2 linked regions of the Homo sapiens genome follow. The protein of the gene in region 1 purifies or fractionates together with the protein of each later gene. This does not show direct contact. Each region holds a gene or a part of one and is shown on either strand. Other genes may lie near its edges.

Region 1 (3,912 bases):
ATCTGGCGGGCGAGTGGGCGTCAGAGCACCGGGGGGTGCTGGGGCGTGTGCAGGTTAAGGGCGTTGGGGTGCGCGTGGCCGATCAGGTTGAGGTAATGCCGGTCCAGGCCCTGCACCGGTGTCAGGAAGGGGCTGTGCTGCTGCGCTGGGCTAGCGAGCGGCACTGGCGCGCTGGGCAGGTAGGGCAGCGCGGGGCTGCGGGCCGCGCCAGGCGGCCAGGGGAAAGGCCCGGCACCAGAGCCCTGCGGGAACACAGCGGCCTCGCCCGGGCTGTGACCAGCGAATTCGGGCCCCGCAGGGTGCAGCTGATAGGAGAAATCCGGCTCCGGGAGCGAACCCAGCGGCGGAAAGGCGGGCTCCGCGCCCAGGCGGGCCTTGGACTGCAAGAAGGCGAGGATGCGCGCGTACTTCGTGTCCTTGGTCTCCATCCGCTCCACCGTGGTGAGGTAATGCACCAGGTTCTTCATGCACTCGTGGTAGCCATAGTGGAAGTAGTTGGCAAACTCCGCTAGAAGTTCTGCTGGAGGAACGAGAAAGCCCGTAGGACGGACACACCCTGAGTGCCCCTTCCCCACGCGAGCCCAAAGCGGGTGCAGGGCACCTCCCACCACATTTTCTGGCCAAAGTTCCCATTTGAGGCCCGCCCTCTCCTCTGCGCAGTCTTAGAGACTGGCGAGGCACGCGCAAACGCCCTCTTTCCCTGAGAGCCTGACCCCACCCACCCCACCCGGGAGAAGGAGGTGGAACCAGCCTCCCTGGGAACCAGTTCTCCCTCGCCGCCTTGCTGTCGCCGAGCAGGGAGAGGCGCCTTCGCAGGACCCCTGCCCTCCTGGAGAGTGGAGCTCTAGTAGAGCTCTCGGGAACACTCAGTCACTCCCCTCCCAGCCCCAGGGTCTCTGGGTGGCGCAGGCGCCTGGCCCAGGCGTCCCATTCCCTAACCTGTGCCCACCTTTTTCCCTTCCCCGGGGAAAATCAGCGGAGTGCAGTGCTCTCAGGTACTGAACGGTCATCTCGAGGATCTCCGCCTTCTCCAGCTTCCCGGAACTCTGCAAAAGGAGGAAGGGCCCCTCGCAGCGGCCCAGCGCCTGCTGGTCGGGCACTGTGGCGCTGGAGAGGACCAGCGAGCGGACGCGGCTGCGGATCTGCGCCAGAGCCTCCTGAGGTTCGCCCTGCGCTCAGGCCCCCCGCCTGGGAGGGGCCCGCAAGTGAGGTCCTCTGTGTCCGCGGGCTCGGGCGTCTCCGCAGAGTGGCCGCAGAGGCCTCCCAACGCCTGGCACCCGGCTCCGGGTCGCCAACGTTACCTGCTTCGCCAAGGCCATGGGCACTGTCTTGCCCAGCTCGTTCAAGCAGCGGTTGATCCTGTCCCTCCTCCGCTTTTCTATCACTTTATGAGAAACGGGGGTTCTCTGCGAAGAGAGGGTTGTATGTTTAGGATGGCTTTGCCCGGGAAGTCGTCAAAGGCGCGGCTCTAGCAGCTGGGTGCAAGCCGCCTCTCCAGCCGCGCACACTGCTCAGATTCGCTCTAGGAAGGGACTCCTGGCCCGCCACGCTCGGGCCAGGTGAGCTCTGCCTTCTGACGCCCGCGCTGGCGCGCTCCCCTTCCAGCCACCCTACCCAGGCCTTTGGGGAGGTGGCCGCCAGCCTCCAGGCAGGACTTCTACCTGGTTGAGCACCCTCCTCTCTCTACCCCACCCCCTTCCCAAACCACTCGAGATTCCTCCACACTCAAAGTCCCGTGCGGGCACTTCCCTGCCATCGGTCCACCCAAGTGGCGGGTCGGTGAGTCAGATGCCTCCACCACCAGGGCGCAAGTGCCATTTGGGCTCAGCCGACTCACTTTGCGTTCCTTGAGCTTGTCTGACATCCTGGTCAGTACGCGCCCTCGGGAGAGGCGGTGGCGCGGGGCACCCGTCCACTTTTCCGCCTCGTGTGCCTCCTCGAGTGTCCCAGGTAGACTGCAGCCTCCCAACTCCGAGGGCTGCCTTATAAAGCGGTCATCTAGGGCTCCAGATGCATTCACGAGTTGAATTATTCCATAGGATTAGGGGAGCTGCGTTTGGAGGATGTATGCATTCAAGATCAGTTTTAAAGAAGTTAAGAAAAAAAAAAAATTAGCAGCCGAGGGGGGCGAGCTGGGGGCAGATCAGCTTTGTTAATCCACGTGGCCCTTCAAAGGACACGTGATCGGCCCAGGAATAACATTTGCATGGCAACAGCTCGGGCGGGAAAAGGAGGCGGTAAACTGGGGCCGGCGGGCGAGCAAGCGCCTGCAGCAGTCGCGGGCGCGGAGCGCAGGGGCGCAGCGGCCGCGGGCACCGGGGGGCGAGGACCCTCACAAAACAGTGTCGCCTCTTTTAGTCCCACCGCTGAGTCTCACATGATCGCCTGTTTACAAATCCCAGCAAGCCCGCCGTCCCAGCGCCGAGTGCGTTTTAAAGCCTGTCCAGAGTCATTAAAGTAATTAAGTAAGCCTTTAATAGGCTGTTCCGCCGGGTTCAAGGGAGAGCTCTTGGAGACGGAGGCGCCCCGTTTGTTCCCAGGCTTTTCTCACACGACTTGGTGACACGTCCTTCTCCCCCCTTTTTGTTTACACCGCTTTATTTGTCCGGACATCCCGGCAGGTGTGGGGCTGCGGCTGGCACACGAGGCTCCCGCCTCGCCTCGCCTCGCCCCTCCCGCCGCTGTTTGGCACGCGACGCTCCCCCCTACTCCCTGACCACGTCGCTGGCTTTCTTTTCTCCCCACCCCTCCTGCTCCCTCTTCGCGGGGGGAAGAGGCTCAATTTGTAGCCTATTATCCTATACGAAAATGTCCATTGAAAAGTATGAATAGTTTCATTGGGCTAAATTTTAATAATGCCAGAGGGTGGGGGAGGAGAGACTGGCGGGCGTGTGTGTGTGTTTGTGTGTGAAGGGGCGGGTGGGAGGATTGGGGGGCAACACGGAGAAGAGTGGGCCGAGAAGAAAAGGGGGAATGCAGCTGGCCCAGGCAAGCATTATGCAACGTCACCTGCGAGAGGGGGCGCCTACAGACCCCTATTCATTTGCCTAATTTTGGTCAATTTAACAAACTTCAGGAGAAATTATTGTGGCTTTGTCAGGGAGGGTGAAGCCTTCTGATCGAATTAACAGCATGTTTTGATCCGGTAAATGTCATTAGAAAGGGAGAAACAATCGCGCTTAGAGGGCTCTGAGTAATGCGCCCAAGTGGAGACGCCAAAGCGCACGGCTCACAAAGGGAGCAAGTAGCTGCCACAGGGAACTTTTGTACCCGCCCATCGCCCAAGTTTTGACACAAAAAGGCATTATTTCATACTTGAATACGTTTAATCCAACGATTGTCTATTTTCTGCAAACATATTTTCACAGCATTGTTAACTTTTTATGTCTCCCTTTCGCTGGCGTCTTTTCTTAACGTTTGGGGGCGGGAGAGCGCAGACACTTTGGGCATCAATATTTGTCACTGAAAAGGGCCCTGTGAAGTTTGGGAAGTTGATCTCTTTTTTATGGTTTTAGAAAGCGAAAATATCGGGGGGAGGAGGAGGGAGGGAAGGCACGAACAGAAACGAGGGAGGAAATTTGCTGGACGGGCCCAAGGGGAAGGAGGGGGGCGGCGGCGGCTGGGAACTCTCTTGGCCGCCTGCGCCTCTGAGGGCAACCTGGCCCCGCGGCCAGAGGCCACCTCCCCCAGGACGGGCCTCGCTCACACTTGCTGCCTCGGATCCTATACTCTGGGGGCTCTGAGCTTGTGGGGTGTGGGTGGGGGGTGAGCTTTCTTGCAGATTGAAACGATAAAAATGATTTTTGTTTTATGGCCCTTTCTAGAGCCACCGAACTCTCACCTCTCTAATCTTTTCCATCTGGGAACAGCTGAGACCGCTTCTCAGATTTTTCTTCTTTTCTGCCTGCCCCT
Region 2 (3,812 bases), on another chromosome or scaffold:
TGGATTGTTCTGTGTTGTCACAGAAAGAGGGTTATTTATAACCATATAATAGTAAAAAAAGACAGTCAAAATAATAGGCATTACATTTAATCTGTAGATCACTTTGGGTAGTATGGACATTTTAACAATATTAATTATTCCAATCCAGGAACATAGGATATATTTCCTTTTTTTTTTTTTTGTCATCTTCAATTTCTTTCATCAATGTTTTGTAGTTTTTAGTCTTTCACCTCCTTGGTTAAATTTATCCCTAAGTTTTTTTTGTTTTTTTTTTTTAAGTTTTTTTCTTGTACTATTGTAGATGAAATTTTCTTGATTTCTTTTTTGGATAGTTTGTTGTTAGTGTATATTGTATTTTTATATGTTGATTTTATATTCTGCAACTTTTTTGAATTTATTAGTTTTAACATTTTTGGTGGAGTCTTTAAAGATTAAGGATTTTTATATATAAGCTCATGTCACCTGCAGACAGACAATTTTACCTCTTTCTTTCTGGTTTGGATGCTTTTTGTTTTTATTTCTTTTTCTTACTTAATTGCTCCAGCTAGGACTTCCATTACTATAATGAACAGAAGTGGTGAGAATGGGCATCTTTGTCTTATTCCTGATCTTAGAGGAAAAGGTTTAGCTTTTGACTGTTTGAGTATGATGTTAGCTGTGGGCTTGTCACATATAGCCTTTATTATGTTGAGGTATATCCCTTTTATACCTAATTTATTGAGAGTTTTTATCATGAATGGGTTTATTATGTTGAGGTATATCCCTTTTATACCTAATTTATTGAGAGTTTTTATCATGAATGGGTGTTGAAATTTGTTAAGTGCTTTTTCTGGATTTATCAAGATGATATGATTTCTATCCTTCATTCTATTAATGTGGCATATCTCATTTATTGATTTGCATATGTTGAACCATCCTTGCATTCCACAGATAGATCCTACTTGATCATGGTATATAATCTGTTTAATATGCTGTTGAATTCAGTTTGTTAGTATTTTGTTGAGAATTTTTGCATCTATGTTCATCAGAGATATTGACCTGTAATTTTGTTTTCTTCTAGTGTCCTTGTCTGGTTTTGGTAGCAGGGTAATACCACCCTTATAAAATGAGTTTGGAAGTGTTCCATTCTCTTCAATTTTTGGAAGAGTTTGAGAAGGATCGGTCTTAATTCTTCTTTGAAGAAAGTTTGCTAGAATTCACCATTGAATCCATCAGGTCCTAGGCTTTTCTTGTTGGGAGGTTTTTGATTACTGATTGAGCCTCCTTACTCATATTAGTATGTTCAGATTTTCTATTTCTTCTTCATGATACAGTCTTGGTAAGCTGTATATGTCTAGAAATTCATCCATTTTTTTCTAGATTATCCAATTTGTTGATGTATAGTTGTTCATAGTAGTCTCTTAGGATCCTTTGTTTTTTCTGTAGTATAAGTTATAATGTCTCCTCTTACATTTCTGATTTTACTTGAGTCTTTTCTTTTTTTCTTATTCTAATTAAAAGTTTGTCACTTTTTTATCTTGTCAAAAAAAACAACTCTAAGTTTCATTGATCTTTCCTGTTATTTTTCTAACTTCTATTTCAGTTATTTCTGCTCTGTTATTATTTCCTCCCTTCTGCTAACTTTGGGCTTAGTTTGTTCTTTTTCTAGTTCCTTGAGGTATAAAGTTAAGATTTTTGAGATTTTTCTTTTTTCTTAATGTAGACATTTATCACCATAAACTTTCTTCTTAGAACTGCTTTTGCTGCATCCCTTAAGTTTTAATATGTTGTGTTTCCCTTTTCATTTGTCTCAAGTTTTTTTTATTTCCCTTTGACTCATTGGTTGTTCAAGAATATGTTGTTCAATTTCCACATTCATGTGAATTTTCCAATTTTCCTCCCTTTACTGATTCTAGTTTCATAATGTTGTAGTTGAAAAGAACTTGAGGCCAGGCACACTGGCTCACGCCTATAATCCTTGCACTTTGGGAGGCTGAGGTGGGTGGATCACGAGGTCAGGAGTTCAAGACCAGCCTGGCCGACTTGGTCTCTACTAAAAATACAAAAAAAAAATAGCTGGGCGTGGCAGCGGGTGCCTTTAATCCCAGCTACTCAGGAGGCTGAGGCAGAGAATTGTTTGAACCCGGGAGGCGGAGCTTGCAGTGAGCCAAGATCACGCCACTGCACTCCAGCCCAGGTGACAGAGTGAGACTCCGTCTCAAAAAAAAAAGAAAGGATACTTGAGGTGATTTCAGTCTTACATTTGTTAAGGCTTGTTTTGTGGCCTAACATATGCACTATCCTGGAGAATATTCTCTGTGCACTTGAAAAGAATGTATATTCTGCTGCTATTGGATAGAATGTTCTGTATATGTCTGTTAGGTCCATTTGTATGGTGTTGTTCAAGTTTGCTCTTTCCTTACTGGTTTTCTGTCTGGATGATCTATCATTGAAAGTAAGTATTGAAGTCCCTTACTATTATTGTATTGTCGTCTACCTCTTTCTTCAGTTCTGTTAATGTTTGCTTTATACATTTAGGTGCTCTAATGTTGAGTGCATTTATATTTACCAATGTTATATGCTCTTGATGAATTGACACCTTTATCATTGTGTGGTAACTTTCTTTATCCCTTGTGATAGTTTTTTACTTAAAGTCTATTTTGTCTGATATAAATATAGCCACCCCCGGCTGGACATGGTGGCTCACGCCTGTAATCCCAGCTCTTTGGGAGACCAAGGCGGGCGGATCACGAGGTCAGGAAATCAAGACCGTCCTCACTAACATGGTGAAACCCTGTCTCTACTAAAAATACAAAAAATTAGCCGGGTGTGGTGGCAGGCGCCTGTAGTCCCAGCTACTTGGGAGGCTGAGGCAGGAGAATGGCATGAACCCAGGAGGCAGAGCTTGCAGTGAGCTGAGATGGCACCACCGCACTCCAGCCTGGGTGGCAGAGCGACACTCCGTCTCAAAAATAAATAAATAAATATAGCCACCCCTGCTCTCTTTTGGCTACCATTTGAGTGGAATATCTTTTTTTTATCTCTACTTTTAGCCTATGTGTCCTCTTACACACATAGGCCTTTACAGATGGCTTCAGCAGGGGAAGCCCTTACCAGGTAGCTCATCCAGAGATTCTTGGGGGGGCAACTGACAGGTTCTGCAGGTAGGTGGGCCTGGTGCCTTGGTCTTTGGGGGTAGCTTGGAGGCTGGGTCCTCTGCGGCAGGCCTGGCAGTGGAATCCACTAGGGTGGACCTTTTAAGTGGGTCTTCAGGTGAAACACCTGGAGCCCGGTAAGTAGATCTGCAGGAGCCAGCCTGGTGCAGGGGTGGGCCCTACCCTGAGCCTGCAGGGGCTGGCCTGATGCAGGGGTCCACTTGGCTGGGTCTGTGAGAGTGGACCTGGAGCCTTTAAGTTTCTTAAAGACAAGACTGGATCTTATTTCGAACCACCATCACATCTTGTACGGTGTCTGAAGTATATCAGGTGCTTATCAAGTTTATTTGTGTAGAGTCAGCCTTTAAACATTGTTCAGAGGCTTTGATGTAATGCAAAAATAAAATAAACGGAGACAGGTTACCCATGAGGAAATATTTGCTTCCAGATATTGTAGTACATTTCAGAATCAAGAGTATGCCACTGAGCTACAACTCAACAACAAACAAATAGCCTGAATAAAAAATAGGCAAAGAACTTGTATAGACATTTCTCCAAACACAATATAGAAGTGACTAACAAGCATATAAAAAGAGGCTCAGCATCACTAATCATTAGGAAAATGCAAGTCAAAACCACAATGAGGTATCTCCTCACACAGATTAGGGTGGCTACTAT

What was found.
Region 2: the proteins of HELT (region 1) and SORT1 purify together in Homo sapiens (affinity purification with mass spectrometry; one large-scale study listed by BioGRID and IntAct). This does not show direct contact.

What each region holds. Positions count from the first base shown.
Region 1 is NC_000004.12:185,016,881-185,020,792, reverse strand, and holds the start of HELT (hairy and enhancer of split-related protein HELT), read right to left. Parts: upstream 2,304-3,912; 5' UTR 1,865-2,303; coding exon 1,838-1,864; coding exon of another isoform or gene 1,706-1,837; intron 1,443-1,705; coding exon of another isoform or gene 1,407-1,442; coding exon 1,302-1,406; intron 1,047-1,301; coding exon 950-1,046; intron 521-949; coding exon 21-520; 3' UTR 1-20. UniProt on the Homo sapiens protein: Transcriptional repressor which binds preferentially to the canonical E box sequence 5'-CACGCG-3'.
Region 2 is NC_000001.11:109,328,407-109,332,218, reverse strand, and holds part of SORT1 (sortilin isoform 1 preproprotein), read left to right. Parts: intron 1-3,812.